4 separate regions of the Homo sapiens genome follow, and all the other regions are linked to region 1. The links come from fine-mapping of genetic effects on gene expression. A gene starts in region 1. Each other region holds a variant in brackets. All regions are shown on one strand. Distances are between the middles of the regions. Region 1 holds the start of RNF187 (ring finger protein 187). Region 2 has its middle 51 kb from the start of RNF187. Region 3 holds the start of LOC105373124 (a long non-coding RNA gene). Region 4 has its middle 5.3 kb from the start of H3-4.

Evidence for each region. PIP is the estimated chance that this variant, and not a neighbour inherited with it, causes the effect.
Region 2: its variant is the best candidate, but not a certain one, in a credible set for the expression of RNF187 in transverse colon (GTEx, PIP 0.80).
Region 3: its variant is the best candidate, but not a certain one, in a credible set for the expression of RNF187 in gastroesophageal junction (GTEx, PIP 0.51).
Region 4: its variant is the best candidate, but not a certain one, in a credible set for the expression of RNF187 in pancreas (GTEx, PIP 0.73).

What each region holds. Positions count from the first base shown.
Region 1 is chr1:228,483,394-228,491,492 of GRCh38, reverse strand. It overlaps RNF187 (ring finger protein 187), which reads right to left and starts at 4,111. Exons shown (of 4, transcript NM_001010858.3): 1 at 3,615-4,111; 2 at 2,441-2,533. The coding sequence starts at 4,004. RefSeq lists enhancers at 1,937-2,664, 2,665-3,393, 3,511-4,371, 4,673-5,052, 4,372-5,233 and 1 more and silencers at 3,473-3,672, 3,933-4,052.
Region 2 is chr1:228,534,492-228,542,590 of GRCh38, reverse strand. No RefSeq gene overlaps it. Among named protein-coding and RNA genes, the nearest start is that of RNF187, 51 kb to the right of the region's middle. The variant G/A (reference allele first, on the strand shown) is at 4,523.
Region 3 is chr1:228,507,118-228,515,216 of GRCh38, reverse strand. LOC105373124 (a long non-coding RNA gene) reads right to left here and starts at 7,170. Exons shown (of 3, transcript XR_949233.3): 1 at 7,095-7,170; 2 at 6,383-6,516; 3 at 5,085-5,326. It also overlaps the pseudogene BTNL10P. RefSeq lists an enhancer at 3,578-4,079. The variant C/T (reference allele first, on the strand shown) is at 4,265.
Region 4 is chr1:228,426,567-228,434,665 of GRCh38, reverse strand. No RefSeq gene overlaps it. Among named protein-coding and RNA genes, the nearest start is that of H3-4, 5.3 kb to the right of the region's middle. The variant G/C (reference allele first, on the strand shown) is at 3,376.

The DNA.
Region 1 (8,099 bases):
CTCCAGCCTGGGCAACAGAGCAAGACTCCATCTCAAAAAAAAAAAATCCTATGTTTTTTCTCCCATTAACCCATCTCCCTTTATTTTTTTTTTTTTTTTTTTTTTGAGATAGGGCCTCACTCTGTCACCCATGTTGGAGTGCAGTGGTGCCATCACAGTTCACTGCAGCCTCAACCTCTTGGGCTTAAGTGATCCTCCCACCTCAGCCTCCCAAGTAGCTGGGACCACAGATGCAACACCATACCTGGCTAATTTATTAATTTTTGTACAGATGGTGGTCTCACTATGTTACCCAGGCTGGTCTCGAACTCCTAGCCTCAAGCAATCCTCCTACACCTCAGCCTCCCAAGTTGCTGGGATTACAGGCATGAACCACTGCACCTGACCCTGTTAGTTTAGCTTATGTCAGTTTAATTCTCCCGCCCAGCCTGGGGCCCTAAAAGGGGAGAAATAGAGTTCTTTCTCCCCTACACTGCAGTGCTCAGCTGCACAGGAAGACTGTCCCTCTCCCATCTCCCATGGCCAAGGGGACAGTAAATCCTTGAGTGGCCCTGCTAGGTCTAGAGCCTGTCAGGCACGTGACTGTCAGGGCAGGACACACACCCATCTTGCCAGCAACTGTCCCTGCTGTGCCCACACCAGAACTCCAATGGCTGAAAACCATCCCATCAGCCTTCAACAAACAGCATTCACACTTGCCACTCTTCAGCTGGTTTTCAGCCAACTCCTAACCTTGCAAACAGGAGAGCAGAGCAGGATGCTACTCTGATTTTACTCAGTCATGGATGGCTTCCACCTGGCCCTGGGCCACACAGGGCAGGTGACACCCATAGTCATGAGGGGCCAAGGCTTTTGTTGCTGAGAATGCAAATGACAGCTGGGTGTCTGCTGGCTGGCTGATGCAACACGCTGCAAACTCCTTCCTTTGGATTTAGGTGGCTTCTCTCATCCCAGCATCTAAGCCACAAACCCCCAAAACAGGACAGATTGAAAGCTCCAACCTGCTAAAATCTGTGGGCAAAACAATTCCCTTGGGGTAACACAGGGTTACTGAAAACTTGGAGGTCCCCAAAGCCTTCCAGCCTCACTTGCACTGGGCAGTGTTGACCACTCACAAGGCAAGGAGAAGTTCAGAGCAGCCCCAAGGGCAGTGTGGAGTGCCAGGGGTCTGAGTGGCATCAGGGACCCCATGTGTAACCCGTCACTGTCTGAGGGAGGCCTGCACCTCAGGCCTGTGGATAGCAGGCAAGGGCTTGGCAGCACCAGGAGCACAGAGCCCACCTCAGCCTCAAGCTGGGGTAAAAACGTGGGCCTCAGCCTCGAGATGCAGCCAGTTACCCAAGAGCTGCTGCACCTGTGAAAAGCACTCTGTCTTTCAGGTTAAAAGAAGGAGATAGGAATTTATGAAACGCAGAGAAAATGGCACACAGGTTTTTACTACACGAGGAAAAAGTCACCAAATAGAGTTTAAACGACTAAAGAGCTTTACTGGTGAGTAACCTAAAAGAATCTATGGGATGTCCCCTTGGGATATAATACTGTGGAAGGCACCCAAGGAAAGTAACGCTGCTCTGGTCTGAATGTCTGTGTCCTCCCCAAATCCCCATGCTGAAATCCTCATCCCTCAGGTGATGGCGTTAGGAGGCAGGACCCTTGGGAGGTGATGAGGTTGTGAGGGTGGAACTCTCAAGAACGGAATCAGTGTCCTTACACAAAGGCCCCAGAGACACCCTCACTTCTTCCACCATGTGAGGACACAGTGAGAAGACACCATCTATGAACCAGGAAACGCCCTCACCAGACAGGGAATCTGCCAGTTCCTTCATCTTGGACTTCTAGCCTCTAAAAAATAATGAGCAACTCTCAGATCAGAACAAGAGGACCACAGAAAATTACAGATGTGTTCTAAAAAAGAAAAAAAAAATAGCACTTTGGGAGGCCAAGGCGGGAGAACCGCTTAAGGTCAGGAGTTTGAGACCAGCCTGGGCAACACAGCAAGACCCCCACCTCTAGAAAAGCATTTTAAAATTAACCAGGTGTGGTAGCACGTGCCTATAGTCCCAGAGGCTGAGGTGGGAGGATCGCCTGAGGCCAGTTCGAGCTGCAGTGAGCTACAATCATGCCATTGCACTTCAGCCTGGGTAATGAAGTGAGACTCTGTCTCTTGGGAAAAAAAAAAGAAGTCTGATGCTGCCATCACCTACAGGTAAAATGTGAGGAGAAAAAGAGGCTTCCACTGGCTTTGGCTAGATTCTATTTGAGAAATACAAACACATCCTAAAAAAAATACCCTGAAGCTCACTTAAGTCCAGAGGCCCCTCCTCCAACCAACCAGCTGAGCAGTTCAGAGGCCTGGCCCACTTGGCCTGGTGGTCCCTTTGTCTAGAGCCCTGAGCCCACAGTCCCCTCATTCCAGGCTGCCCCAGGTCCCCCCACTTGCCTTCCACACTGCAGCTGCTGACTCTGCCTGGCCATGCAGGTCCCGGGCGTCATTCAAGTCCTTTCTCATGATTTCCACAGACCCCTTGTTCTCCTGTAAAGAAAAGAAGGTCACCAGGGGTGGGCAGAAGCTCTGGGTCCCCCAACCCAGCCCAGTACTGAGGGACATCACCCCAGCTGACTGCACACAGTCTGACCATCCCAGAGATAACCTCGAAGCCCGGTTGTCTAGGGCAGGAACGCACAGGCAGTCAAAAGGTTTCTTGGGCTTCACACCTATTCAGAAGGATCTGGGTGCTGGGGCTAAGGGGACTGTCTAGGTGGGTTTAGGAGTTCTGTGTCTGTAAGTGGCCCTGTTCAGTGTGAGTTCGGCCTGTACCAAAGGTCTGCACAGCCTGCCCTACACCCTGCCCTGCCTGAGCCGGATGGGGGTCGCTCTGCCCGGTGGCAGGACCCCCAATGCAGGAGGAGCACCCAGGGACACAGTCTGGCTGGCTTCCCCTCCCCTGTATTGAAGAGCAGGACCCCAGGCTGGCTGTTGTCTCCTATTCTGTGTCCCACAACCAACCCGCCATGGGCAAGGCTCCAGACTCCCGGACCCGCTGCTGCCAGACTCTCAGAGCGGGTTTCTGAAAGATGGGAGAGGGGACAGGGGGTGCAGGCGAGGGCTGGGTGGCCCGGGGAGCAGACGAGAAGGTGGGCCAGGCCTGTGGACACAGTGGAATACAGAGGGGCAAGAGGCGTGATGTCTCCCCCAAGGGAAGAGTGAGTGGAGGAGTCAATCTGTAGGAACTAGAGGGGGTCTATGAGGGCGAGACAGGGCACAGCTAGTGATGGGACCACAAAGATGGGCGCTGGTGGGGGAAGGACTTCGTAGAAGGTAGGGGGTGGGGAGATAAGGCACCGCCCAGCAGGGGACACCAAGACGGGGAAGGGGACCAGACTCCGAAGAGACGCAGGAAATATGGGGAGGCAAGCCGCAGGAGGGAGGGGCCCAGCACACGCTGGAGAGGGGACCCGTGGCGGTGAGGGGAGGGGGACAATCCGGGGACGGGGACAATCCGGGGACAGGAACAGTGGAGACGGGAAGGGCCCAGGGCTCAGGGGGACCGGGGCGGGGGCGGAGAGGCGCAGGGCACCGTCCGGGGTGGGGCACGGGACCCCGCGGCGCGCACCTTGCCGCGCAGCGCCTTCCTCCAGCGCGGTTCCCACTCGGGCGGCTCGGGGCCCGCAGCCATACGGCAGGCGGCGCAGAGCGGGCCGGCGTCGGCGCGGCACAGCAGCTGCAGCGCGGCCTCGCTGGCCGGGCCGTCGCGCGCGGGCGCCGCGGCCGCCTCCTCGAGCGCCAGAAGGCGGCGGCTGAGCGGGGGCCTGCCGGGCTCCACGGCGCGCTGCCAGCAGTCGTCGGCGCACTCGGGGCACGGGAAGGGCCCGTCCTCCTCGGCCCAGAAGCGCACCACGCACGCCCGACAGAAGCGGTGGCCGCAGTCGGCGCGCACCGGTTCCCGGGGCGCGCGCTGGCACAGGGCGCAGGCGGCCTCGGCGGGGCCCGCAGGGAGCGCCAGGGCTGCGGGCGGCGGGGCCGGCAAGGGCGCAGGAGCGGCTGGGGAGGGCCGGAGACCTAGACGGCCGGCGACCGGACGGAGACCAGCAACAGGACGAAGACGCCAACGCCGGGGACGCGCACGGGGCGGGGTCGGGGACGCGCACGGGGCGGGGTCCGGACCGCGGAGCGCTCTGCCGATAAGATCCTGGCAGCGGTGTGCTGCAGCCGGAGGTCCTGGCCGCGCTGCGCTCCACAGACAAGATCCTGGCAGCAGTGTACTGCATCCTTAGGTCCTGGCCGCGGTGGGCTTCTCCGCCTGGATCCTAGCGGCGGTGCGCTCCTCCGCCTTGATTTTGGCAACTATGCTCTCCACCTGCAAGGTCCTGGCAGCGGCGCACGTCACCGCGCAAGTCCTGGCAGCTGCGCGCTTCACTCTACTGCCTGCGGACCGGCCCAAGTCGTATCCTGAAATCTTACTGGGCTGTCCCTTCCTACTTCAGTAACTCCTGCGAAAGAGGGAAACAAAGTTTTATTTTTACTTGAAGGTTCCATTTTTAAAAGGTTGTTTTTGTAAGCTGCTAGGATCTGAGCTGCGCGTACCCCCGCGGTAGCTCGCCCGCGTGGGCTGGGGACGGGGCGGGAAATGGCCTGCGTGGGCCTCCTCCGCTGCTCTCATCCTGCACGGACCCGCCCTGCATGGGCACGCCCTGCGTGCACGGGCCTGCCCGCGTGGACGTGCCCTGCGTGCACCCTTCCTTCAGGGACCCGCCCTTGAACGGCCCTCCGGACGTGGACACTCGTATACGCCCACCCTGCGTGGGATCTCCCTGCGTGGACCCATCCCGCTGAGCCTCTTCTCGCGCAGCCTCCCTCTGGCCCCCTGGGAAGCTACCCTGGTTGTCCGCTGTCTCCTGGCTGGGGGGAGCTCTCATTGATTCTGTGATGATGCATGACAGAAGAGCATTTGTTAGCTTTGCTTTGCTTTTCTTTCTTTTTTGAGACAGCCTCGCTCTGTTGCCAGGCAGGCTTGAGTGCAGTGGCGCGATCTCGGCTCACTGCAACCTCCGCGTCCCGGGTTCAAGCGATTCTCCTGCCTCAGCCCCCCGAGTAGCCGGTATTGCAGGCGCCTGCCACGACGCCCGGCTAATTTTTGTATTTTTAGTACAGACGGGGTTTCACCATGTTGGCCAGGCTGGCCTCGAACTCCTGACCTCGTAATCCACCCGCCTCTGCCTCCCAAAGTGCTGGGATTACAGGCGTGAGCCACTACACCCGGCCGTTAGCTTTTCTTTAAAAAATAAATTTAAAGGAAAGAAATAAGCCTTTGGGAAGAGCAATCTTGTGTTTTTGTTTTTTAATTATTTTGAAAACAAGCAAGCATGGTTAAAATAAGATTGTGCAAGTTTTGCATTTTAAAAAATTAATCTGGGCCGGGCGCCGTGGCTCACGTCTCTAATCCCAGCACTTTGCGAGGCCGAGGCGAGCGGATCACAAGGTCAAGATATGAGACCATCCTGGCTCATGGTGAAACCCCGTCTCTACTAAAAATACACAAATTAGCCGGGCGTGGTGGCGCATGCCTGTAATCCCAGCTACTCAGGAGGCTGAGGCAGGAGAATCACTTGAACCAGGGAGTCGGAGGTTGCGGTGAGCCAAGATCGTGCCACTGCACTCTAGCCTGGCGACAGAGCGAGACTCTGTCTTAAAAAACAAAAACAAAAAAAAATTTTTATAAATCTGTATTCCAAGCAAGCGCAGGATCTAATGAGGTATTTTTGTCTTTGTGAAGATTTTTTAAATCGACTTGGAAATGCACTAGATGCCCGTGGGAAACATGAATAGTAAACCGAGGTTATTTCTGTGTAGTAAAGATTAGAGGCTTCCAGCCGAGCCTTGCTGATATTGTTGAGTCAACTAGGAACTTGCTGGAGAGAAAAGTAAAAAATATAAAAAATGAGCAAACTTCATAATGAACTAATCTTGTGAATGAGAAAATATCAAAAATTATAATTAAAGGCAAATAGCCAAATTAGGAACATTGTAACCACAAATATACAAAGAGTTTATAAAATTAGGTAAGGAAAAGCATGATGGAAAATACACCTTGTCATGGGATTTTTCAAATCACAAAAAAAAAAGCACACAAATGATTGAACACACATGAGAAAAAAATGTACACTCTGCCCAGTTAAGAAAGAGGAAAATAAAACGAGACTCTCTTTCTTTCCACTATTAAGTAAGCAGACCAAACAAAAAAAAGGAAACTTGGCCGGGAGCCGTGGCTCAGGCCTGTAAACACAGCACTTTGGGAGGCCGAGGCGGGTGAATCATCTGAGGTCAGGAGTTCAAGACCAGCCTGGCCAACATAGTGAAACCCTATCTCTACTAAAAATACAAAAATTAGGCTGGATGTGGTGGCACACGCCTGTAATCCCAGCACTTTGGGAGGCTGAGGCAGGTGGATCACAAGATCAAGAGATCGAGACCATCCTGGCCAACATGGTGAAACCCCGTCTCTACTAAAAATACAAAAATTAGTTGGGCATGGTGGTGCACGCCTGTGGTCCCAGCTACTTGAGAGGCTGAGGCAGGAGAATAGCTGGAACCGGGAGACGAAGGTTGCAGTGAGCCGAGATCATGCCACTACACTCCAACCTGGCGACAGAGCAAGACTCCCTCAGTTTCAAAAAAAAAAAAAAAATACAAAAATTAGCCAGGCATGGTGGCACGTGCCTGTAATCCCAGCTATTTGGGTGGCTGAGGCAGGAGAATCGCTTGAACCTGGGCGGTGGAGGTTGCAGTGAGCCGAGATCACACCACTGCACTCCAGCCTGGGCAACAGAGTGAAACTCCATTTCAAAAAAACAAAAAACAGAAAACAAACAAACAAAAAAAACACTTGATTCTGTGAATACTGCTTCTTGTAATCCACGTAGCAGTATCGATTAAGGATTTTCTGATTGGAATTCCTTTTCTTAGAAAACAAACTATAAAAATAACAGGAAATGAAAATAATAAAAATTGGGTTGTAAAAAATTGGGCTGTTTTGTTTTGTTTAGAAATGTGGCTGGGAGAGGTGGCTCATGCCTGTTAATCCCAGCACTTTGGGAGGCTGAGGTGAGTGGATAGCTTGAGCCCAGTAGTTCAACACCAGCCTGGGGAACATGGCAAGAACCTGTCTGTACAGAAAATTTTTAAAATTTAGCTGGGCGTGGTGGCACGCACCTGTGGACCCAACTACTTGGGAGGCTGAGGTGGGAGGATCACCCGAGCACAGGAGATTGAGCCTGTAGTGAGCCGTGATCATGCCACTGCACTCCAGCCTGGGAAATGAGAGAATTTTTTAAGACCTTGTCTTAAAAAAAAGAAAGAGAGAGAGAGAGAGAGAGAGAGGTGGGGGCGGGGGGTGGGGGAGAGAAGGAAGGAGTGGAGGGAGAGAGGAAGGAAGGAAGAAAGGGAAAAGAAAAAGAAGAAAGGAAGGAAAGAAAGAAAAGGAAGGAAGGAAGGAGAAAAAGAAGGAAGGAAAGAAAGAGAGAAAGGAAGGGAGGGAGGGAGGAAGGGAGAGGAAGAAAGAGAAGAAAGAAAGAGAAATGTATGTCATATCACTATTCATTTTGGAGAAAAAAAAAAAAACCTTGAAGGTCCAATACTAGGGGCATGGCTTAGCAAATGGTAGCAGCCATGAACTTGCACATGTGTGCATTAGAGACTTTTGGAAGTATACACTGGCAAAGATTGTTGCCTGAAAGCCTCTCTCCCTTACCACCAGCAGAATCCACATTGTGTGGTGCCAGCATCCCCACTTCCCAAGACAGGGTGGCTGGTGTAGGTGCCAAGGGGAACCCTTGGTCCTCTCAAATTTTGATGAAAAATTGCAAAAGGCTGGTCGCGGTGGCTCACGCCTGTAATCCCAGCACTTTGGGAGGCCGAGGCTGGCAGATCACAAGGCCAGGAGATGGAGACCATCCTGGCCAACACGGTGAAACCCCATCTCTACTGAAAATACAAAAATTAGCTGGGCATGGTGCTGCATGCCTGTAGTCCCAGCTACTCGGGAGGCTGAGGCAGGAGAATCGCTTGAACCCAGGAGACGGAGGCTACAGTGAGCTGACAT
Region 2 (8,099 bases), 51 kb before region 1:
CCAGTCATTCTAAACAGAGAGACTCCTGGCCGACCCCAGGCATTCTAATGATAGAGACACCTGGGCAACCACAGGCACTCTACTGGGAGAGACTCCTGGCCTACCCAAGGCATTCTAACTTTAAAGACATCTGGGCAACTTCAAGCATTCTAAAGGGAGAGACTTCTGGCCAACCCCAGACATTCTAATAATAGAGACACCTGGAAAACCCCAAACATTCTAATGGGAGAGACTCCTGGCTCACCACAGGCATTCTAATAATAGAGACACCTAGGCAACTTCAAGCATTCTTAAATGAGAAACTCCTGGCACATCCCAGGCATTCTAATGATAGTGACACCTCGGTTACCCCAGGTATTATAATAGCAGAGACTACTGGCTGATCCCAGGAATTTTAATGATGGAGACACCTCTGTGATTCCAGGCATTTTAATGGGAGAGATTCCTAGTTGACTCCAGGCATGGTAGTGATAGAGACACCTGTGTGACCCCAGGCATTCTAATTATACAGACAGTTGGGTGAACCCAGGCATTCTAAAGGGAGAGACTCCTGGATGACCCCTGGCATTCTATTGATAGAGACATCTGGGAGACTCCAGGCATTCTAATGGGAGAGACACATGGCCAACCACAGGCATTCTAATTATAGAGACACCCGGGCGACTTTAGGCATTCTAATGTGAGAGACTCCTGACCAACCCCAGGCATTCTAATTATAGAGACAAATGGGTGACGCCAGGCATTCTTATGGAACAGACTTCTGGCCAACCCAAGACATTCTAATGATAGAGACACCTGGGTGACTTCAGGCATTCAAATGATAGAGACACTTGGACAACCCCAGGCGTTCTAATGGGAGAGACTCCTGGTCAAACTCAAGCATTATGACAGAGATACCTAGGTGACCCAAGATATTTTACTGGAAAGACTCATGGCCAACCCCAGGCATTCTAATATTAGAGACACCTGAGTGACCCCAGGCATTTTTATTAGACTCTTATTTGACCCCATGCATTCTAATAATAGAGACACCCGGGTTACCCCAGGCATTCTAATGGGAGAGACTCCGGGCCTATCTAAGGCAATCTAATGATAGAGACACCTTGAAGACTTCAGACATTCTAATGGGAGAGACTCCTGGCTGACCCTAGGTATTTTAATAATACAGGCATCTGGGAGAACCCATGCATTCTAAAGGGAGAGACTCCTGGCTGACCTCAAACATTCTAATGATAGAGACACCTTTTTGACCCCAGGCATTCTAAAGTTAGACACACCTGGGAGATCACATGCTTTCTAATTGGATAGACTTCTGGCTGATTCCAGGCATTCTAACGGTAGAGACAGCTTGGCGACCCCAGGCATTATCATGGCAGTGACTCCTTGCTGACCGCAGGCATTCAAATAATAGACACCTGGGTGACCACAGATATTCTAATGGGAGAGACTCCTGGCTGACCCCAGGCTTTCTAATTATTAAGAAACCTGTGGGACTCCAGGCATTATTATGATAGAGACACCTAAGCGACCCCGGGCATTCTAATTACAGAGACACCTGGGAGGCCTCAGGCATTCTAATGGGAGATACCCCTGGTTGACCCCAGGCATTTGAAAGATAAAGACCCTTAGGTGACTCCAGAATATCTAATGATAGAGACTCCTGAACAACCCAAGGAAATCTAATGAAAGAGACTCCTTGTTAACCCCAGGCATTTTTATGTTAGAGACATCTGGTGACCTCAAGCATTTTAATGGGAGAGATTCCTAGCTGACCCCAAGCATTGTAATGATAGAGAAATCTGGGCAACCCCAGGCATTGTAATGGGAAAGACTCCTGGCCAACCTCAGGCATTCTCATGAGAGAGACTCATGGGCGACCCCAGGCATTCTAATGGGAGAGAATCTTGGCTGACCCCAGGCATTGTAATGATAAAGACATCTGGGCAACACCAGGCATTTCAATGGAAAAGACTCCTGGGAGACCTCAGGCATTATAATGATAGAGATACCTGGGTGATTTTAGACATTCTAATGGGAGAGACTCCTGGCCAACCCCAGGCATTCTAATGATAGAGACACCTTGGCGACCCCAGGCATTTTAATGGGAGAGACTCCTGGCCGACCACAGGCATTCTAATGATAGAGACAACTGGGCGATCCCAAGCATTCTAATGAAAGACACTCTAGGCTGACACCTGGCATCGTAATGATAAAGAAACCAGGGACATTCCAGGCATACTAATGACAGAAACTTCCAGATGACCCTAGTTTTTCTAATGATAAAGACACGTCGGCGACCTCAGGCATTCCAATATAAAAGACTCCTGGCCGGCCCCAGACATTCTAATGGTAGAGATAACTGGGCAACCCCAGGCATTCTACTGGGAGAGAATCTCAGCCAGCCCCAGATATTCTAATGATAGACACACCTTGGTGACTTCAGGCATTCTAATGGGAGAGACTCCTGGTTAACCCCAGGAATTCTAATAATAGAGACACCAGGACGACCCCAGGCCTTCTAATGAAAGAGACTCCTGCCCAAACCCAGACATTCTAACGATAAAGACACCTGAGCAACCCCAGCCATTCTAATGATAGAGACACCTGGGCAAACCCAGCTATTTTAATGGGAGAGAATCCTTCCCCATTCCGGTATTCTAATGATAGAGACACCTGGGCAGCCAATGGCATTCTAATGGGATAGACTCCTGGACTACCTCAGGCATTTTAATGATAAAGACAGCTGTGCCACACAAGGCATTCTAATGATGGAGACACCTAGACGAACCCACACATTCTAACTGGAGAGACTCCTGGTGGAATCCAGGCATTCTAATGATAGAAACACTTGGGCCACCCCAGGCATTCTAATGGGAATGTTTCCTGGCTGATCCAAGGAATTGTAATAATAGAGACAAGTGGGTGACCCAAGGCATAGTAATGGAAGAGACTCTTGGCTAACTCCAGACATTCTAATAATAGAGACACCTGGAGGAACCCAGGAATTCTAATGGAAGAGACTCCTGGCTGACCCCAGGCATTGTAATAATAGGGACACCTGGGCGACCCCTTGCATTTTAATGAGAGAATCCCAACCGACCCCAGCCATTCTAATGATAGAGACACATGGGTGACCCCAGGAATTGTAAGGGGAGGACTCCTGGCTGACCCCAGGCATTCTCATGATGGAGACACTAGGGAGACCCCAGGCACTCTAATAAAAGAGACTCCTGCCCGATCTCAGGCATTCTAATAGGAGAGACCCTAGGCCGGCCACTAGCATTCTAATGATATAGAAACCTGGGCTCTTTCAGGCATTCTGATGATAGAGACACGTGTGCAACATCAGGCATTCTAATGGGAGAGACTCCTGACCAATACCATGCATTCTAATGATAGAGACGACTTGGTACCCCAGGTATTCTAACAAGATGGACTCCTGGCCAACACTAGTCTTTCTAATACCTGGGCAACCCCAGGCAACCCCAGGCATTCTAATGGTTGAGATTCCTGGACAAACCCAGGCATTCTAATGACAGAGACAGCTGGTCATCTCAGGCATTCTAATGGAGAGACTTCTGGCCCACCCCAGGCATTGTAATGATAGAGACAACTGGGAGACCCCAGGCATTCTACTGATAGAAACACCAGGGTGACAGCATGCATTCTAATGGGAGAGACTCCAACCAACCCCAGGCATTCTAATTATAGAGACATTTGGGCGACCCCAAGCATTCTAAGGGGAGAGACCCCCGGCTGACCCTAGGCATTCTCATGAGAAAGACACCTGGGTGACCTCAGACAATCTAATGGGAGAGACTCCTGGGCGACCTTAGGCATTGTAATAATAGAGACCCCTGGATGACTGCAGGCATTCTAATGGAAGAGACTCCTGGCCGACCCTAGGCATTCTAATAATAGATACAGCTGGACGACTTCAGGCATTCGAATGGGAGAGACTTCTGGCTGACCATAGGCATTATAATGGTAGAGACAAGTGGGCTACTTTAGGCATTTTAATGAGAGGGACCCTTGGCCAACCCCAGGCATTCTAATGATAGAGACACCAACGAGACTCTAGGCATTCTAAAGGGAGAGAATACTGGGCAACCTTAGTAATTCTAATGAGACACCTGGGCAACCTCAGGCATTATAATGTGAAAAACTCCAGACAAACCACAGGCATTCTAATAATAGAGACACCTGGGTGACCCCATGCATTCTAATGGGAGAGACTTTCGGCCAACCCCAGGAATTCTAATGATAGAGACAAATGGGTGACCCCAGGCATTCTAATGATAGATACACTTAAGCAGCTCGTGGCATACTAATGGGAGAGACACCTACCTGACCCCAGGCAATCTAATTACAGAGACACCTGGGCAACGCCAGGCATTCTAATGAAAGAAACTTCTGGTTGACCTCATGCATTCTAATGATACAGACAACTGAGCGATCCCAGGCTTTCTAATGGGAGAGATTCCTGGCCAACCCCAGTCATTCTAATGATAGAGAAACCTGG[G/A]TGACCCCAGGCATTCTAATGGAAGAGATTTCTGGCCGACCTCAGGCATTCTAAAAATAAAGAAAGCTTGGTGACCCCAGGTATTCTAATGATAGAGACAACTGGGTGACACCAGGCACTCTAATAATAAAGACACCTGGGCGACCATAGGCGTTCTAATGATTAAGACAGCTGGGCAACCTCAGGCCTTCTAATGGAGAGACTCCTGGCTGACCCCAGGCATTCTAATTTGAGAGACTGCAGGCAGACCCCAGACATTGTATTGATAGAGAAACCTGGGTGACCACAGGCATTCTAATGATAGAGACCACTGCGTACCCCAGGCATTCTAATGATAGAGATACCTGGTCCACCACAGACATTCTAATGGGAGATGCCCCTGGCCAATCCTAGGCATTGTAATGATAGAGACAACTGGGCAACCCCAGGCATTCTAATGGGGGAGACTCCTGGCCAACTTTAGGCATTCTAGCAATAGAGACACCTGAGTGAGCCCAGGCATTCTAATGGAATAGATTTTTGGCTGACCCCATGTATTCTAATGATAGAGACACCTGGGTGACCCCAGGTATTCTAATGGGAGAGACTCCTGCTGACCCAGGCATTCTAATGATAGAGAGACCTGGGCAACCCCGGGCATTCTATTGGGAGAGACCTCAGGCCAACCCCAGGCATTCTAATTAAAGGGACAACTGGGCGACCCCAGGCATTCTAATGATAGAGACACCTGATGGATTACAGACATTCTAATAGGAGAGACTCCTTGCCGACCCCAGATACTGTAATGACAGATGTCGGGGTGATCAGACTCAACACCAGGTCATGGGGGTGATGAAGTCCGGCAGAGTCAAAGGAATGAGAAAAGACTGTTTGAGAAAGAAAGTGGGTCTAGGGGGCCAATGCTAGTATGGAGGCTGTGAAGGCCCCGAGCTCTGGAAGCCCAGACTATTTATTGGTGATCAAGCAAAGAAACGGGTGATGAGAATGTGGGGGTCAAAAGGGCAAGCACATGATCTACAGCTGTGATGGTTTAGCATTTCCTTTGAAGCATATGGGACATATTCTGCTACTTGAGATAATGGGGAGCATGTTCTTCTAGTTTAAGCTAGAAGCAAGGAGCCAGCAAGTCTAGACTCATTCCAGAGGCCACGAGAGGTTTTATGCTCTGAGCCCTGGACATCATGTCAGACATGCAAGCCCTGCCTCAGCTTTTTTCCCAACACTCAGCTTTTTCCCAACAGAAAGAGACATGTGGGAGACCCCAAGCATTCTAATGGGAGAGACTCCAGGCCAAACCCAGGCATTCTAATAATAGAGACTTTTAGGTTACCCCAGGCATTCTAATGATAGAGACACTGGAATGATTTCAATCATTATAATGGGAGAGACTCGTGGATGATTCCAGGCATTGTAATGACAGAGACACCTGGGTGACTACAGAAATTCTAATGGGAGAGACTCCTGGCTGACCTCAGGCATTGTAATGATAGAGACACCTGGGCGACCCCAGGCATTCTAATGAGAGAGACTCGTGGCTGACCCTTGGTATTCTTATGATAGAGACAACTGGGCGACCCCAGGCATTCTAATGGAAGAGACTCCTGGCTGACCACAGGCACTCTAATGATAAAAACACCTGAGCGACCCCAGGCACTATAATAATAGGAACACTTGGGCCACCCCAGGCACTCTAATTGGAGAGACTCATGGCCAACCCCAGGCATTGTAATGATAGAGACAGCTGGGCGACCTCAAGCATTCTAACCAGAGAGACACCTGGCCAACCCCAGACATTCTAATGATAGTAACAACTTCTCGACCCCAGGCATTCTAATGGAGAGATTCCTGGCAGACCCCAGGCATTGTAATGATAGAGACCCCTCTTCAACCCTAGGCATTCTAATGGGAGAGACTCTTGGCTGACCCCAGGCATTCTAATGGTAGAGACACCTGGACAACCCCAGCCATGCTAATGGGAGATACTCGTGGCTGATTCCAGGCATTGTAATGATAGACACCTGGGCAACCACCAGCTTTCTATGGGAGAGACTCCTGGCCAACCCCAGGCATTCTAATGATAGAGATATCTGGGCTACCCCAGGAATTTTAAAGATAGAGACACGTGACCAACCCCAGGTGTTCTTACAGGAAAGACTCCTGGCTGACCTCAGGCATTCTAATGATAAAGACACTTGGCGACCTCCTGCATTCTAAGGACAGAGACATCTAGCCCACCCCCAGGCATTCTAATGGGAGAAACTCCTGGCCGACCCCAGGCATTCTAATGATAGAGGCTTTTGGCCAACTCCAAGCATTCTAATGGTAAAGACAACTGTGTGACCTCAGGCATTCTAAGGATAGAGCCACCTGGCTGACTTCTGGCATTGTAATGGGACTCCTGGCCAACACCAGTCCTTCTAATGATAGAGACACATGGGTGACCTCAGGCATTCTAAGGATAGAGAAACCTGGCCGACCACAGGCATTGTAACCAGAGAGAATTTTGGCCAACCTGAGACATTCTAATTATAGAGACTCCTGGGAATCCTCAGGCATTCTAATGATAGAGACACCTGGGCAACCTCAGGCATTCTATAAAGACACCTGGCTGACCCTAGGAATTCTAACAGGAGAGACACCTGGCTGACCCCAGGCATTCTAATCAGAGAGACACCTTGGCGACCTCAGGCATTGGAAGGATAGAGACACCTGGCCGAATTCAAGCATTCTAAAGGGAGAGACTCCTGGCTTGACCCCAGGCATTCTAATGATAGAGACTCATAGCTGAGCCCAGGCATTCTAATAATGGAGACACCTTGGCCACCTCAGTCATTCTAAGGATGGAGACACCTCGGCGACCTCAGGCGTTCTAAAAATAGAGACACCTGGCCAACACCAGGCATTCTAACAGGAGAGACTCCTGGCCGACCCCAAGCATTCTAATGATAGAGACTCCTGGCCAACCACAGGCATTCTAATTATAGACACACCTGGGCAAACTCAGGCATTCTAACGATAGACACCTAGCCGACAACAGGCATTCTAACGGGAGAGATTTCTGGCCCTCCTCAGTCATCCTAATGATAAGACACCTTGGTGACCTCAGGCATTCTAAGGATAGAGAAACCTGGGTGACCCCAGGCATTCTAACCAGAGAGACTCCTATTTGGCCAAACAGATGTCTGGCCATCCCCAGGCATTCTAATGGGAGAGATGCCTGGCCAGCCTCATGGATTCTAATGATGGAGGCTTCTGGCCAATGCCAGGCATTCTAAGGACAGAGACATCTGGCCGACCTCAAGCATTCTAACTGAAGAGACTCCTGGCTGACCCCAGGCATTCTAATGATAGTCACCTGGGTGAACTCAGGCATTCTAATGAGAGAGACTCCTGGTTGAGTACAGGAATTTTAATAATAGAGATGCCTGGGTGACCCCAGGCATTCTAATGGGAGAGACTCCTTGCCGACCCCAGGCATTCTAATGATAGGGACATCTTAGCGACCACAGGCATTTTGTTGGGAGAGACTCCTTGCCGACTGCAGGCATTCTAATGATAGAGACACCTAAGCGACCCC
Region 3 (8,099 bases), 24 kb before region 1:
TTAAAGCATACCATTTGGTGGCATTAAGTACATTCCCAATGTTTTGCAACCACCACCTCTATCTAATTCCAAAATATTTTCATCACCCTAAATAAAACCCCCAAAATATTAAACAGTTATTCCTCATCTCCATTTCCACCTCCCCCATCTCCTCAGCCCCAACAACCACAGTTTTCTTTCTGTCCCTGTATTTACCTGTCTGATCATTTCATATGAATGGAATTGTGCAGTGTGTGACCTCCTGTCTTCTTCTTGCCTTTGAACTTTAAACATTGTACCTGAGGTGGGTTGAGCTGAATGTGTCTGCAGGAGCCCCGACTGCCCACATGAGAGACTCTGGGCCACACATGGGCTCATGCACAGAAGGACCACCGTGTCAGGTGACCTACCCATGGGCTGAAAGCCCACACCGCCAGGACACCTTTCTCTGCCATAGCTTCTCCCAGTGCTTGTGACACTCTTCATCCGACAACAGGCATCACAATCTGCTCTCAACACAGTGTGCTCTGTACATCGTAGCGGCTCACTCTAGATTGTTCAAACCTGAGTCCTTCTTCCCAAGTCATCAGGACAAGTGTGACTGGATGCAGCACAGTGGCTCATGCCAGTAACCACGGTACTTTGATAAGCCGAAGTGGGAGGATTGCTTAAGCCCAGGAGTTCAAGACAAGCCTGGGCAACATAGCACGACTTTATCTCTACAAAAAATACCAAAAATTTAGCCAGGCATGATGGTGCACCTGTGGTCCCAGCTACTTGGGAGGCTGAGATGGGAGGATTGCTTGAGTCTGGGAGATCAAGGATGCAGTGAGCTGAGATCACACCACTGTACTCCAGCCTGGGTGACAGAGTGAGACCCTGTCTTTAACAACATATTAATTAATGTTTTTTTGAGGCAGAGTCTCACTCTGTCACCCAGGCTGGAGTGCAGTAGCACGATCTTGGCTCACTGCAACCTCCACCTCCCTGGTTCAAGCAATTCCCCTGCCTCAGCCTCCCAAGTAGCTGGGATTACAGGCACAGGCCACCATGCTGGGCTAATTTTTTTGTATTTTTAGTACAGATGGGTTTCCACCACGTTGGCCAGACTGGTCTTGAACTCCTGACCTCAGGCAATCTGCCTGCCTCAGCCTACCAAAGTACTGGGATTACAGGTGTGAGCCACCGCGTCTGGTCAATTATTTTTTTAAAAAGGACAAGTGAGTCGAGTTTTAGGTCACGTCATTGTCTGGTAAAAGCAGATCACAGGACGACATAATTCTTACGTGTTGACATATAAAAGGGGGAACAACCGGTTGACCAAAGAGACGCTCCCCCAAGGAGGGACATAGGAGGGACCTGGCACTTGGATTTCCTCACCGCCCGCAGGCACAGGGAGTGCTCAGCCCGTCTGCAGAGTTTGGATAAAGCTCCTCCCTCTAGGAAAGCAAGGACTCCTTTCTCACAAAAACCACCCAGGAAAAGGCCCAGACTTTTGAATCATCAAACAAGAAGGTGAGGAGGGAATAGGCCTTGCGGCTGGGTGCGAGAAATCAGCATGAAGGTTCTAAGCTGGGCCAGGGATGCTACCAGTGAGAACAGACACCCATGACCCCACAGCCACGGAGGGCAGCGAAGGGCTGGGGAAGAGGAGCCCTGAACGTCCCTCTGGGACAATACAGGAATTAGGACATTGCGACATGATCATAAACACCTTTCCTGAAGGACCTGGGCCAGCTAGGCTGGGCCTGCACGCTGCCAGATAACCACAGGCTTTATCTGCATTTGCAGCTCCTTCAGCTGGCCTGGGTCCCACCCTGAGACCCGTCTCCTCCCGGCGGGCTCTATCTCCTGCTCCCCAGCCCTGGGGTGTTCCACACTGGGGATCACACTCTTCAGGAAGCCTTTTTTTTTTTTTCTGCTGCAACTGCCAGAAAGGTACAGTTACATATTTTTGCAAAAAACAAAAGGAAGAATCTCTGGAAACTGGGGGACTTGGCGGCTTTTGCCAGATGTCTAGGTTGCCTTTCACATCACTGCTTGGAGACAGCGTGGTTGGTCTGGGTCACACCCTACCTGGAGTTGGCAGGAAACTAAATTCATTCCCCCAAAGTTGCCAGGACTTCCCAGGGAAGCTGCAGCAGCTCTCGGTGCCAGGTGAGCATTGTCTATGGTCAGGATGTGGTTTGCTCTTCAGTGTCTCTGCTTCCTCCACCCTCTCCCCATCCCCAAGGGCAGAAGGACCACAGGGCCTTCCTGCAATGCAAGAACCAAACAGGACAAGAGCCTGTGCCCACACAACTCCCTAATCACACACGTAAATGCCCAACCTGGATGGCTGTGCTGGGTAGAACCGCCCAAGGTCACAGAACTTTTTACCAACACCTGCTCTCTAAACCAAGGTTACAAGAAATGCTCACAAGAGACTCATGAGGGTCTTGGCCTGCCCATCCCAGCTGAAGAGCTCTGAGGATTGGGCCCAGCCCCCAGCCCCTGACTGTAGAAGTCCCCATGGGGACAGCAGGAAAGCAAGGGACATTAAGGGAATCCCTTGATGTCGTTCTGACCTCGAATTTGCTTAATCCGAGTCTGGGTTTTCTCCCCCAGCATTCTGGAGTTTCATGACAGTCACCAGCTAGAGACTGGGCTACAGCTCTTTATGAGCAATTAGAAAATCAAACCCCTTCCCTCCTGGATGTCCTCGTGGAATTCCGCAGACAGACTAGGGTGAGAGGTGTGTTACCCGCAAGGAGATGGGTACAGGAGCACATGAGGCTTGCTGTGTCTCCATTTATAGCATTAATAACTTGTTTGAGAGTGAGAGTAAATGACCTTTTTCTTCTTTTTCTTCCATGGCACTTTTCCTCTGCACCTGTTAGCTTCCTGGCGGTGGCTCCTCTCCCAGTGACAGTGCGTGGCTCCGGCCTGGCAGGAATGGCAGTGACATGCGATCCAGAGGCCTTCCTGTCCATCTGCTTTGTCACCTTGGTCTTCCTGCAGCTCCCACTGGCCAGCATCTGTCAAAACTGAGGGACAGACTCCTGTGCAAGTCGAGGCAGGTGCCCTGGCATAGGTGGGGGTGTGTCCAGCATGGCGGGAAGCTGAAGCATCTCCCAGCAGCTCAGGGCTCAATAGGTCCCCAAAGCTTCCAAGAAGAGGGAGGGGCAGGGGGGAAGTGCCCTGGCCTCCCAACACATGGCCTAACCCAGCCCTTTCTGATCTGCCTCCCCCAGGGAAAGCTGACTTTGATGTCACTGGGCCTCATGCCCCTATTCTGGCTATGGCTGGGGGACACGTGGAGTTACAGTGCCAGCTGTTCCCCAATATCAGTGCCGAGGACATGGAGCTGAGGTGGTACAGGTGCCAGCCCTCCCTAGCTGTGCACATGCATGAGAGAGGGATGGACATGGATGGAGAGCAAAAGTGGCAGTACAGAGGAAGGACCACCTTCATGAGTGACCACGTGGCCAGGGGCAAGGCCATGGTGAGGAGTCACAGGGTCACCACCTTTGACAACAGGACATACTGCTGCCGCTTCAAGGATGGTGTAAAGTTCGGCGAGGCCACTGTGCAGGTGCAGGTGGCAGGTAAGGCTGGTGGCTAGCTGGCTGTCAGTCTACTTCCAGGCATGGCCTTGGGGCCCAGCGTGTTCAGGTGGAGGGCTTTTCAGTAGGGTGAGAGTGCACTCTCCCAGCTGCCGTGCTGGCCTGCACTGCTCCCGGGAAGCACAGCGGTGAAGGCAGAGCCACCTTCCTCATCTTCCTTTCCCTCCTTACACCAGTGGACTGGAAAGTGAAGGGAAGGGAAAGAGAGAGATGGGGGGAATGAGAGAGACACAGAGAAGAAGAGATAGAATGAGAAAGAAGCAGGGAGAGACAGACAGAGGTGGAAAGAGAGATGGAGAGAAAGACAGAGAGATGAGAGAAAGACAGAGAGAGATGAAGAAAGAATGACAGAATTATAGAGATGGGGAAAGAGAGAGATGGAGAGGGAGGGACAGGCAGAGACAGAGAATGAAAGACAGGAGAGACAGAGATGGAGAGAGACAGAGAGAATGAGAAACTGAGAGAAACACAGAGAGAATGAAAGAGACAAAGAGACAGAGTCAGTGACAGAGAGAGGGAGATAGAGACAGAGACAGAGAGACAGTAAAAGAAAATGAGAAAGACAGTAAGCAACAGAGAGTGGGAGGAAGAGAGAGACAGAGAAATAATGACAGGAGACAGAAAGGCCAAGAGAGAGAAGAGAGTCTTCAGATACGGGAGGTTTCCCGAGTGACTCAGAA[C/T]TTGTGCTTCGAAACAGACAAGCCTGGGTCCCATCTTGTGCCATGAATTCTACTTCTGCAACACAGGATGCCTATTCAATCTTCCTGGACCTTTTCCACTTTGCTTCCCTTCTTTTGTCTGGGAAATGGGGAACTCTGTTAGGGATGGTGTGTAACACAGGGTAGGCAGTTTGTGAAATTGCCAAAATACATTGGAAATCCTCAAGATTTTGTTTTTCCTTTAAATAGAAGCAGCCATGGCTGCAAAGATTCAAGCTGCTGTCTCTTCCTTCAGGGCTGGGCAGAGAGCCCAGAATCCAGGTGACAGACCAGCAGGATGGAGTCAGGGCGGAGTGCACATCAGCAGGCTGTTTCCCCAAGTCCTGGGTGGAACGGAGAGACTTCAGGGGCCAGGCTAGGCCTGCTGTGACCAATCTATCAGCCTCAGCCACCACCAGGCTCTGGGCTGTGGCATCCAGCTTGACGCTCTGGGACAGGGCTGTGGAGGGTCTCTCCTGCTCCATCTCCAGCCCCCTCCTCCCTGAAAGGAGGAAGGTGGCTGAGAGCCACCTGCCCGGTGAGTCCTCTATTCAGTTCTGTCCTCACAATCACTGAGCACAGGATTCCGTGGCCCTGGACACTGGGGACATTAAGAGACAGCTGTGGGGTTTGTGGCAAGCAGGGATGGGTGGCAGGTCCCTGTCCTCACATGGCTGGGGCATCCCAGGAGGTGCACTGTTTGGGTGCTGATTACTGAAGAGGAACAGAGATAAGGGTGCAGGGACCCTGGGGAGAGCCTTGCCTTTGGGGGAACAAGAAATGTACATCCTAATATCAACAGTTTTTAGGGTTTTTTAAAATAGGCTTTATTTTTTAAAGCAGTTTTAGGGTCACAACAAATTTTAGTAGAAAGTCCAGAGAGTTCCCATCTTCCCCTAACCCCCTCACACACCTTCCCCCAGCATAAAAACCCTACACCAGAAGGAACGTCCACCATGTTTGATGAACTTCCGTTGACAATGCCGTCAGCACCCAGAGTGCAGTTTTCATGAGGGCTCACTCTTGGCATGGTGTCCCATGGTTCTAGATAAATATATAATGCCACATATCTGTCATAGTATCATACAAAATAATGTCACTGCCCTTAATCCTCCGTGCTCCGCTCATTCATTCATCTCCCCTAACTCCTGGCCACCACTGATGTTTTCACTGTCTCCATAGTTTCCAGGTGTTCTGGAATGTCCTGTAGTTGGGACGGTGCCTCTGTAGCCCCTTCACTTTGACTTCCCTCACTTTGTGGTACGCATTTAGGTTTCCTCCATGTCTTTTCCTGCCTTGATAACTTGTTTCTTTTGTGAAATGAATAACGTTCCAGGATCTGGATGGACCACTGTTTATTGATCCATTCACCTACTAAAAAATATCTTGGTTGTTTCCAAATTTAGCTTTTCACAAAAACTTTCACTTTTACTTTTCTAAATGATGTCAAACTTACAGAAACTTTGCAAGATTAATAGAAAAGTTGTCTGTGCACCCTTTACTCAGATTCACCATATTTTTACCTTATTGCGATATTTCTTTTTATCACTTCTCCCTTTGTCTATCTACAAATAGATATCTAATATCTACTTCCTATGCATATGTCTAAACCCAACTGTCTTACTCCATTTGTGTGCCTATAACAAAATACCACAGACCAGGTGGCTTAGAAACAAGAGATAGCTATTGCCCACAGTTTTGTAAGCTGGGAAGTCCAAGATCAAGGCGTGGCAGATTTGGTGTCTGGCAAGGGCACTTCCTGGTTCATAGACAGCGCCTTCTCACTGTGTCCTCACATGGTGGAAGGGGTGAGGGAGCTCTCTGGGCTCTCCCCTTTATAAGGGCACCATTCCCATCATATCCGTTACAGGGGCTCCACCCTCATGACCTCATCACTTCCCAAAGGCCTCACCTCCTAACATCATCACCGTAGGGGTTGGGATTTCAACCCCTTTGGGGGACACAGACATTCGGTCCATAGACCAGCTGTGCAAATACATACTATTTTGGAAACTATTTCACAGTAATTTGCAAATATTATGTCCCTGGACTACTGAACTCTTTAGCAAGTTTGACCTCAGAACACAGAAACTCTCTTACCCCAATATTCCTGGCTTCTGGGAATCTTCTCCAGCTACCTTCTCCAGAAGCTCCCAGTTCACGGCATGGAAAGCAGCTCTGCCTCTGATCCTTGTTGCCATGGGACTCGTAATAGCTGGAGGCATCTGCATCTTCTGGAAACGTCAAAGGGAAAAGAACAAAGCATCACTGGAAGAAGAGAGGGAGTGAAGAGAAAAGGAGCAGAGGCGGCCCACCAGCAGCGACAAGGCTGAGCCATGGCGTGGTGAGCAGGGAGCCCCGACAAGGCACATCCTGCCCCCCCACCCCAAATCCAGGACCCTAACACGAAGCCCTGAGCTGAGGCTTCGTCCATGTGTCCTCAGACACAGTAGGAATGGGGTGGCCAGTGGGGATCCTCCCTCTGGCATTGCCTGATTATGATCTACCCAGTGAGACCATCTGTCTCCTAGCAATCCCTCAATTAAGTCTTCACTGGCTGATTTCAGGCAGGCTGGTTGGGCTCTGTCTTGAAAACAGACAGATCTGAGTTTGAACCCCAAGTCTGATGGGTGTGGGCTGAGGGACCTGGTGTGAGCCCTGAGCCACTCTGTCTGCTGGGAGTGCTGATACCATCCTGAAAGACCAACAGAGTAGCATTCAGAGCAAGGCCGCGTCAGGGAGGGTTTACAGTTGCAATCACTGTGATTATTCTCAATATTGACTGTGTCCTTCATTCATTCACTTCACTCACTTCCTCCTCTGTCATTTCAGGAGCTGAGGACTTGTTCCTAGACTTCAGAGCCCTATTTTGAGAGTAGAGATTGTGCTCAGCTGGTTATAAAGACTGCATTATGACAGAGTTGCTTGTGGTGGCTTGCAGCTGTCATCCAGCATTTTGGGAGGCTGAGGCGGGAAAATTGCTTGAGGCCAGGAGTTTGAGGACACCCTGGGCAATATAGCAAGACCCCATCTCTACAAAAAAATAAAAATAAAGAAATTAGCCAGGCATGGTGGTGTGTGCCTGTTGTCCCAGCTACTCAGGAGGCTGAGGTGGGAAAATCACTCGAGCCCAGGAGTTTAAGGCTACAGTGAGCCATGATTGTGCTACTGCACTCCAGCCTGGGTGACAGAGCCAGATCCTGTCAGACAGATGAAAGAAGAAAGAAGGAAAGAAAGAAAGAAGAAAGAAAGAAAGAAAGAAAGAAAGAAAGAAAGAAAGAAAGAAAGAAAGAAAGACGAAATCTCTCAGCATTTGCTTGTCTGTAAAGGATTTTATTTCTCCTTCACTTATGAAGCTTAGTTTGGCTGGATATGAAATTCTGGGTGGAAAATTCTTTTCTTTAAGAATGTTGAATAGTGGCCCCCACTCTCTTCTGGCTTGTAGAGTTTCTGCCGAGAGATCAGCTGTTAGTCTGATGGGCTTCCCTTTGTGGGTAACCCGACTTTTCTCTCTGGCTGCCCTTAACATTTTTTCCTTCATTTCAACTTTGGTGAATCTGACAATTATGTGTCTTGGAGTTGCTGTTCTCGAGGAGTATCTTTGTGGCGTTCTCTGTATTTCCTGAATCTGAATGTTGGCCTGCCTTGCTAGGTTGGGGAAGTTCTCCTGGATAATATCCTGTAGAGTGTTTTCCAACTTGGTTCCATTCTCCCCATCACTTTCAGGTACACCAATCAGACGTAGATTTGGTCTTTTCACATAGTCCCATATTTCTTGGAGGCTTTGTTCGTTTCTTTTTATTCTTTTTTCTCTAAA
Region 4 (8,099 bases), 57 kb after region 1:
TTAAGTAAATAGCAAAGTTTGGATAAAATAAATTGATCATTTCTTATTATGATAAAACAACGCACACCAAACCCCAGCGTCCTGTGTGATGATGAAATACATCCTTCCCCAGTGAGAAGGAAGCCCAGGATTACCTGGAGCAGAAGCTTCCGGAGCCTTTGACTGGCAGGAAATCTCCAGCCATCAGTGTGGAACAGCCTGAGAGTAAGAATTTCCTGGGGACTGAAGGTGTTTCCATTTTGGGAATTTTAATTTTTTTCAATTTGTGGAAAATTGAATTCCAACAGTATGGGTGTGGGTGGCCCACTCTTTTCTTGGTTTTTACCTGTAGGAACCCCACTAGGTTCTCTTGGTGCAATAGAAAAGACCCCTCCAGGCTGTGGCAGGAGGCGGGAAAGCAACCATGGTGAAGTACACTCAGGACATGCCCCCAAGAAAGGCCTACCCTTCAGGGGAGAGACACTAACAGGCTTAATCCAGCTGGGGGAGGTGTGACCCCCAAATGTCTGAGACAGGTCTCAATTAGTTTAGAGAGTTTATTTTGCCAAGGTTGAGGATGTGCATCTGTGACACAGCCTCAGGAGGTCCTGACGACATGTGCCCAAGGTGGTCTCAGCACAGCTTGGTTTTATACATTTTAGGGAAATATGAGACATCAATCATTATGTGTAATATGTACATTGGTTCAGTCCGGAAAGGTGGGACAACTCGAGGCAAAGGCAGGACAATTTGAAGCAGGGAGGGCGCTTCTAGGTCATAGGTAGATAAGAGACAAATGGTTGCATTCTTTTGAGTTTCTGATTAGCCTCTCCAAATGAGGCCATCAGATATGCATTTATCTCAGGGAGCAGAGGGGTGACTTTGAATAGAATGAGAGGTAGGTTTGCCCTAAGCAGTTCCCAGCTTGACTTTTCTCTTTAGCTTAGTGATTCTGGGGCACCAAGATTTATTTTCCTTTCAGATTTATTTTCCTTTCGAGAAAGGTATTCCCTCCACTTCAGCCACCTCTAGCCTTAAGGAGACAAAAGCAGCTAGGAAACACCTGTGAAGGTCACAGTCCAGGGGCACAGGCCAAATAAGAGGCTGAGATTTCATCATAACACTATGGAATGCTTCCTCCACCCCAGGCCGGCCACCACGCCATAAGGCTCCAGTGTGAGTACAGTCTGACAGAAAGAGCTACTGTTGATCAAGCGAGTCAAACTCCATAAAATATTTTAAGAGATTTATTCTGAGCCAAATATGAGTGACCATGGCCCATGACACAGCCCTCAGGAGGTCCTGAGAACATGTGCCCAAGGTGGTTGAGGTACAGCTTGGTTTTATATATTTTAGGAAGGCATGAGACATTAATCAAATATTAAGAAATATATTGGTTTGGTTCAGAAAGGCAGGACAACTCAAAGCAAGTGCTTCCGGGCTATAAGTAAATGTAAACATTTTCTGGCAGATAATTGGTTGAGCTTGTCTAAAGACCTGGGATCGATAGAAAGGAAATGTTCAGGTTAAAAATAAAGGATTGTGGAGACCAAGTTTTATTGTGCAGAGGAAGTGCTCAGATAGCCAACTTCAGAGACAGCAGGTTGTAAATTGTTTCTTATGGGACTTAAAAGGGTGCCTGGCTCTTAGTTGATTATCTCCTGGATCTGGAAAGAAAGGAAGGAAAACAAAGGGGAAAGGGGATTCTCTATAGAATGTGGATTTTTCCCACAAGAGATTTTTCAGGGCAATTTCAAGGCATGGCAAGGAATATATATTTTGGGGTTGAATATTTTTTCCTTGTCTCAAAATTTTATGCCAGAGTCAGATTGAAAAGTCAGTCACAATATATAGGGTCAAATAAAACCCATCTGATGAGAATTTATGGTTTGTAGGGGTTGACTCCCTAGACCCCGTAGGTGGGAATTTGGGTAAGATAAAAGGTGAGAGCTTATTTGGGTAAGATAAAAGGTCAGTGCTTAGTCCTCACTATGATACACCGGACAGTGTGTGAAGGAGCTCTTAGGGAAGTTTAAAGTCAGGAGGGGAGATGAGAACAAGGACCCTAGGTAAACAAAACTTCGGCTATAATAAACATGAAAAAGAGCCCAGTTTCGAGCCAGATGATGTAAATGCTCACGCTAACGGCCTATGTTCCCGATTTTTTTTTTTTAAACAGGGTCTCACTCTGTGGCCCAGGCTGGAGTGCAGTGGCACAGTCATAGATCACTGCAGACTCAAACTCCTGGGCTCAAGCGATTCTCTCACCTTGGCCTCCCAACGTGCTGGGATTACAGGCACACACGAACATGCCCAGCTAAGTTTTTTTTTTTTTTAATTTTTTTTTTCTTTTAGAGACGGGGTCTTGATATGCTGCCCAGGCTGATCTTGAACTCCTGGCCTCAAGCAGTCCTCCTACCTTAGTCTCCCAAAGTGTTGGGATTACAGGCATGAGCCACCACCCCCAGCCATACCAGAGTTCTGATTACCTGATACTTTATCTCCAGCTTCAACACAAAATGACAAGACGTGCCAAAAGGCAAGAACACACAATCTGAAGAGACAAACGAGAACCAGAACCAGACCCACACGGACCATTCCTGACGTCAATGTTTATTGAGTGCCTACTGGGTGCATGGTGCAGGTGTGGGAGTTATTTGGGGTCGTTGTGACCTGGGAAGCTAACAGGCCATTTGCAACAATAAGAACACAGCGCATTTGCCAAGTGCCTGTATAGGCCTTGTGCTGGCACTGTCACTGGGCCTAGGGGGCATCAGCGTTTGGCTCCTTCTCTTTTTTTTTTTTTTTTTGAGGCAGGGTCTCGCTCTGTTGCCCAGGCTGGAGTGCAGTGGCACAGTCTCAGCTCACTGCAGCTTCAACTTCCCAGGCTCAAGGAATCCTCCCACCTCAGCTTCCCAAGTAGCTGGGACTACAGTTGCATGACACCATGCCCGGCTATTTTTTCGTATTTTTTGTAGAGACGGGGTCCCACTATGTTGCCCTGATCTCAAACTCCTGGGCTCAAGCCATTGCTGGCCTTGGCCTCCCAAAGTGCTGAGATTTATTACAGGCATGAGCTACCACTCCTGATCATGAAGCAGGATAGTGTTATTAAAAGTAGACTTAGGTTGTAAATGTATATTACAAACTCCAGGGCAATCATGAAAACATTGAGAAAGAAGTATAATTGATGTGCGGAGAGAGGATGGAGTTTTATTACAGTGCAGTCATGGCAAATATCTTTGAAGACCCTTAACACCCATCACGACTTTGAAATGACAGTAGCTACAAATACTTCCTAATTCAAATGTTATTTAATGCATTCATAAAGATGCACATTTATAACTCTATGACAAGTTAATTTTATATGTTTTCACAACTTATTTCAATATAATT[G/C]ATTTCCTTTGTATTAATAATTTTTTAACATTTTTGTGCATTTAAAAACTTTTTGGCCTGGCATGGTGGCTCATGCCTGTAATCCCAGCACTTTGGGAAGCTGAGGTGGGTGGATCACTTGAGGTGAGGAGTTCAAGACCAGCCTGACCAACATGGTGAAACCCTGTCTCTACTAAAAATAAAAAAAAAAAATTAGCCAGGTGTGGTGGCTGGTCCCTGTAGTCCCAACTACTAAGGAGGCCAAGGCAGGAGAATTGCTTGAACCCAGGAGGCAGAGGTTGCAATGAGCAGAGATCACACCACTGCACTCCAGCCTGGGTGACAGAGTGAGACTCCATCTCAAAAAAAAAAAGTCTTTCTAAGACAGAATCCATAGGCTTCATCAAACTGCGACAGGGGTTCATGGGACAACAAAAAAAGCTCATGGTGTGAGGAATTCTTGCCATCTATTCAAACTGAACAAGAAAAGAAATCTCCTTAATAAGAAAATATTCTAGAGCACCCAATCTGGATGGAAGTTCATCTTACCTGTTTAAGGAGAAAAATTTGCTTTAGTGTGTTCTATCATGGATAGATTAATACCTTGTTTTGCAGACAAATTTAAAAAGTAAAGAAAGAAAGAAGAAGACATTATAAAGGATCCTTCAGAAAAACACTGAACACATGGCAGGATTCTTTTTTACTATTGAGGCGGTGGGGAATCAGGACAGTGGAGACACACCCACGCTGGGGCCCTTAGAAAGTGGCTATGAACACAGCAAAGATCCGATTGTAAAAAAAACTGGCTACAGCCAACATACTCCCCTGCTTTAGAGATATGTCAGTGTTTCCTGCAGCTTCTGGAAGCTCCAAGGTAGATGACTGGCACTTGGCTCCGTCCCAATTGATGATGTGACTGTGGACTGACTGGTTCATCCCACAGACCGTACTGAAAGTCGTCTCCCACTGGCACCCTCCTGGACACACATGGAGCACTCACCATGCACCAGGCCCACAGAATGGGAAGATGGAACTTGGGGATGGTCAGTATGGACAGGACTTGTGAGGAGTTTCCTGCAGAGTGGGCCAGAGAAGTGGGATGCCAGATGGAAGGGCACATTGGATGGAGAGGGAAGGCGTTCTTTCTAACAAACAGTGGGAAACCCTAGTGCACACTGGCTTTGGAAGAGTCTTAGGAGGACAGAGCTCACCATCGCTTTGTGCACTGTTTACCCCAGACCTAGAAGGAGTGCCTGTTCCTGTAAGACCCCCATCTCTGCCCTTACAGTGAGTTTGTGAAAGTCCAGATGGTTTCAGGCTTGCTGCTGCCCAGACTAAGGAGAAAAGCCAATTTATAAATTGGAGAAGCGATAGCATATTGTTTGCTGATGGGAATGCTCCTACAGAGATGATGCAATATGACCAACCACGTACGACCCCCAAATCTCAAAGAACTTTAACACGAGGATACAAGTCCCGTTACTGCCTCAGCTGTACATGCAAAGACCATAAGGAGAGAAAACGAGGAGACAGAGAAAAAGCACTGATTTACAGAATGCGTGTGGCCTCGACAGACCAGTTCCTTGTGGGGAATGTTTGTATCTCACATTCTCTTCAGTTTGCAGAGGAAATCTCTCTTGGGAAGTTTTCAGGGGACATTTTTCTCTACGTCTTGGTCCTTCTAGGGGTTTTAACGACATAGAACTCAATGATTGGAGATCAAGAAAATGAACTGTTCAGCTAATCATCTAAAAAGCGCTTTTACATGTAATATAGAGGCTATTTTCAAGCCTTGCCAGGGGTGGGTGGGTCCGCATTTAGGCAGCCCTTTATTCTGTGCTTCATGTGAGTGCATTTGTTTGCTCAGACACATAGAACCAGGTGGCATCCTGTGCTATGTCTGGGTGGTTTGGGAGCTCAAAGCCCCTGAGAATCTAAAAGCAAAAGCCCTTATGACTGGAAAAGTGAGGTCGCAGACATGTGCCCAAAACCTATGAGCCTCTTGGCTGCACTCGGAGAACTGGCCAAGCCTGTGCCACACTCCACAGGGAGGCCTGGGTAGAGTCACGAGGCAGAAAGGGCTGCTTTGCAGGTGCTCCTGGGGAGGTCGCAGCAGGTGCCTGGAATCCATCATCCGCCCATCATCAGCCCCGTTAGCCCTAAGGACACCTGGAGAGTCCCAAGGCTGCCTCTCTCGAGTGAGGGACAGCTCCAGGAAGATGGAACGTGTCCAAATCCTCCCAGGCAGTTAAAGGGTTGAGCAGCATCTGGTCTGGCCAGGTCAGACCCCACATCATTTACACCAGGGGCGAGCCTGGGTGGACTTCACAGGTGGATGGTCCTAGGGTCCTTCCATCTGTCTGCCCAGCCAACCAGACCCGATGAGCAGAGGGCAGCAGGCCTTCTGTGTAACAACCACTGTCCAATAAAAAAACCAATCCAGATTTAGTAAGGAGATATCTTTATGCAAAAGGATATTGCAATAGGAGATACCAGAATACTGCAATAGGGAGAAAGCATTGACCTTAATGTCTGCAAGCTCCCAAAGGTGACGCAGAGAAGGAGTTTTCTTATATAGGGAGGAATGAATGAGGCTGGAAAGAACCACGTCTGGGGAAGTGGGATGAAGGGTGGCTGAGGGGACAAGAGATTGAGGATACTTTACCCTGAGCCTGGCCTGCTCCAGGAGAGGCCAAACATCAGGGCGTTGGGGGAGGGGAGAAGCTGAACCAAGGCTGGGCAAACAAGCATCTTGTGTGGATTGACGCATGGGGACAAGGAGTTCAGGTAATCATTGATAAGGCAAAGATGGCAATGTAGTGGGTGCTATAGTTTGAATAAGGTGTTTGTCTCATTAATTCTCATGTTGAAATTTAATCTCCAGTGTTGGAGGTGCAGCCTGGTGGGAGGTGCTTGGGTCCTGGGGGCAGATCCTTCATGAATAGACTCCTGCCCTCCCTTGTAGGGAGTGGAGTTCTTGCTCTATTAGTTCCTGCCAAAGCTGGTTGTTAAAAACAGCCCGGCACCTCCTCCTCTCTCTTTCCCTGTGACCTCTGCACACAGGGGCTCCCCTTCATCTTCCACCATGAATGGAGGCTTCCTGAGGTCCTCATCAGAAGCAGATGCTGAAGCCTTGCTTCTTATACAGCCTGCAGAACCATAAGCCAAAAAAAGTTTTGATAAATTACCCAGCTTCTAGTATTCCTTTACAGCAACGCAAAACAGACAAAGACAGTGGGCCTGTCATGCATCAACAAGGGGCGCTGTAGGGGAGGCAGAATTCTACCTCCATTATCTTAGGGTCCAGGGTGGGCCCAAGAATTAGACTGACATTAGAGAGATGAGCAGGAGAAAAACATACAGTTATTTAATACAAATTTAATGTGGTACAGGAGCCCTCATAAGGAAATGAAGATGCAAAGAGGCAGTTAGAGTCACTTATATACAGAGGTGGACAAACACTATTAAGTTGTGAGATTTGATACGGCCACGGGGCTTGAGTGAGGATAGTTAATGGGGTGAAGAAATGACTAAGTCAAAATACTTACACACTAGGTTGAACAAAGAGTAGTAACTGTGGCAACAACTAGGAAGATAAGGGTTAGTTTAATAAAGTTTGTTTGTATAGATTTCTCTTGGCTTCTATCTTGGTCTGTTTCATGTTGTTAAAGGAATACCTGAGGCTGGATGATTTATTAAAAAAAAAAAAGGTTTATTTGGCTTATGGTTTCGCAGGCTGTACAAGAAGCACAGTGGCTGGGCGCAGTGGCTCACGCCTGTAATCCCAGCTACTCAGGAGGCTGAGGCAGGAGAGTCGCTTGAACTTCCCGGGAGGCGGATGTTGCAGTGGGCTGAGATCACATCACTGCACTCCAGCCTGGGCAACAGAGTGAGACTCAGGTCAAAAAATTAAAAAAAAAAAAGCATAGTGGCCGGGCACGGTGTAATCCTAGCACTTTGGGAGGCCAAGGTCGGGGGATCAGTTGAACTCAGGAATTCAAGACCAGCTTGGGCAACATAATGACAGCCCATCTCTACAAAAAAATTAAAAATTTAAAAATTAGCTGGATGTGGTCCCAGCTACTTGGGAGGCTGAGGTAAGAGGGGCCTGGGCAACAGAGCAAGATGAAAAAAGGAGGGAAAGGAGGGGAGGGGAAGGGAGAAGAAAAAAAGGAAGGGAGGGAGGGAGTGAGGAAGGGAGGGAAGGAGAAAGGAAGGGAGGGAAGGAGAAAGGAAGGGAGGGAAGGAGAAAGGAAGGGAGGGAAGGAGAAAGGAAGGGAGGGAGTGAGGAAGGGAGGGAAGGAGAAAGGAAGGGAGGGAGGGAGAAAGGAAGGAAGCAAGCATAGGGCCCACCTCTGCTTCTGGTGAGGGCCTCTGGCTGCTTCTGCTCATGGTGGAAGGTGAAGGGGAACCCATGTATGTGCAGAGGTCACAGGGCTGCCGCGAGAGAGGACGCCAGAGAGAGAGGGGAGAGGGGTGCCAGGCTCTTTTCAACACCAGCTCTTCAGGGAACCAACAGAGTGAAAACTCACCCTAAAGGAGGGCAGGACTCTATTCAGAGGGTGACACCCCAGGACCCACACACCTCCCACTGGCCCCCCCCTCCCTGGGCTCCAACTTTAGGGATCAAATTTCAACTTGAGAGTTGGAGGAGATTTGGAAGCTTCCACCTCCCGTCCTTGATGATAAGAACGTTCCCTTGCTTTTACTATAAGGAGAACATCTTTCATATGGGAATTTCATCT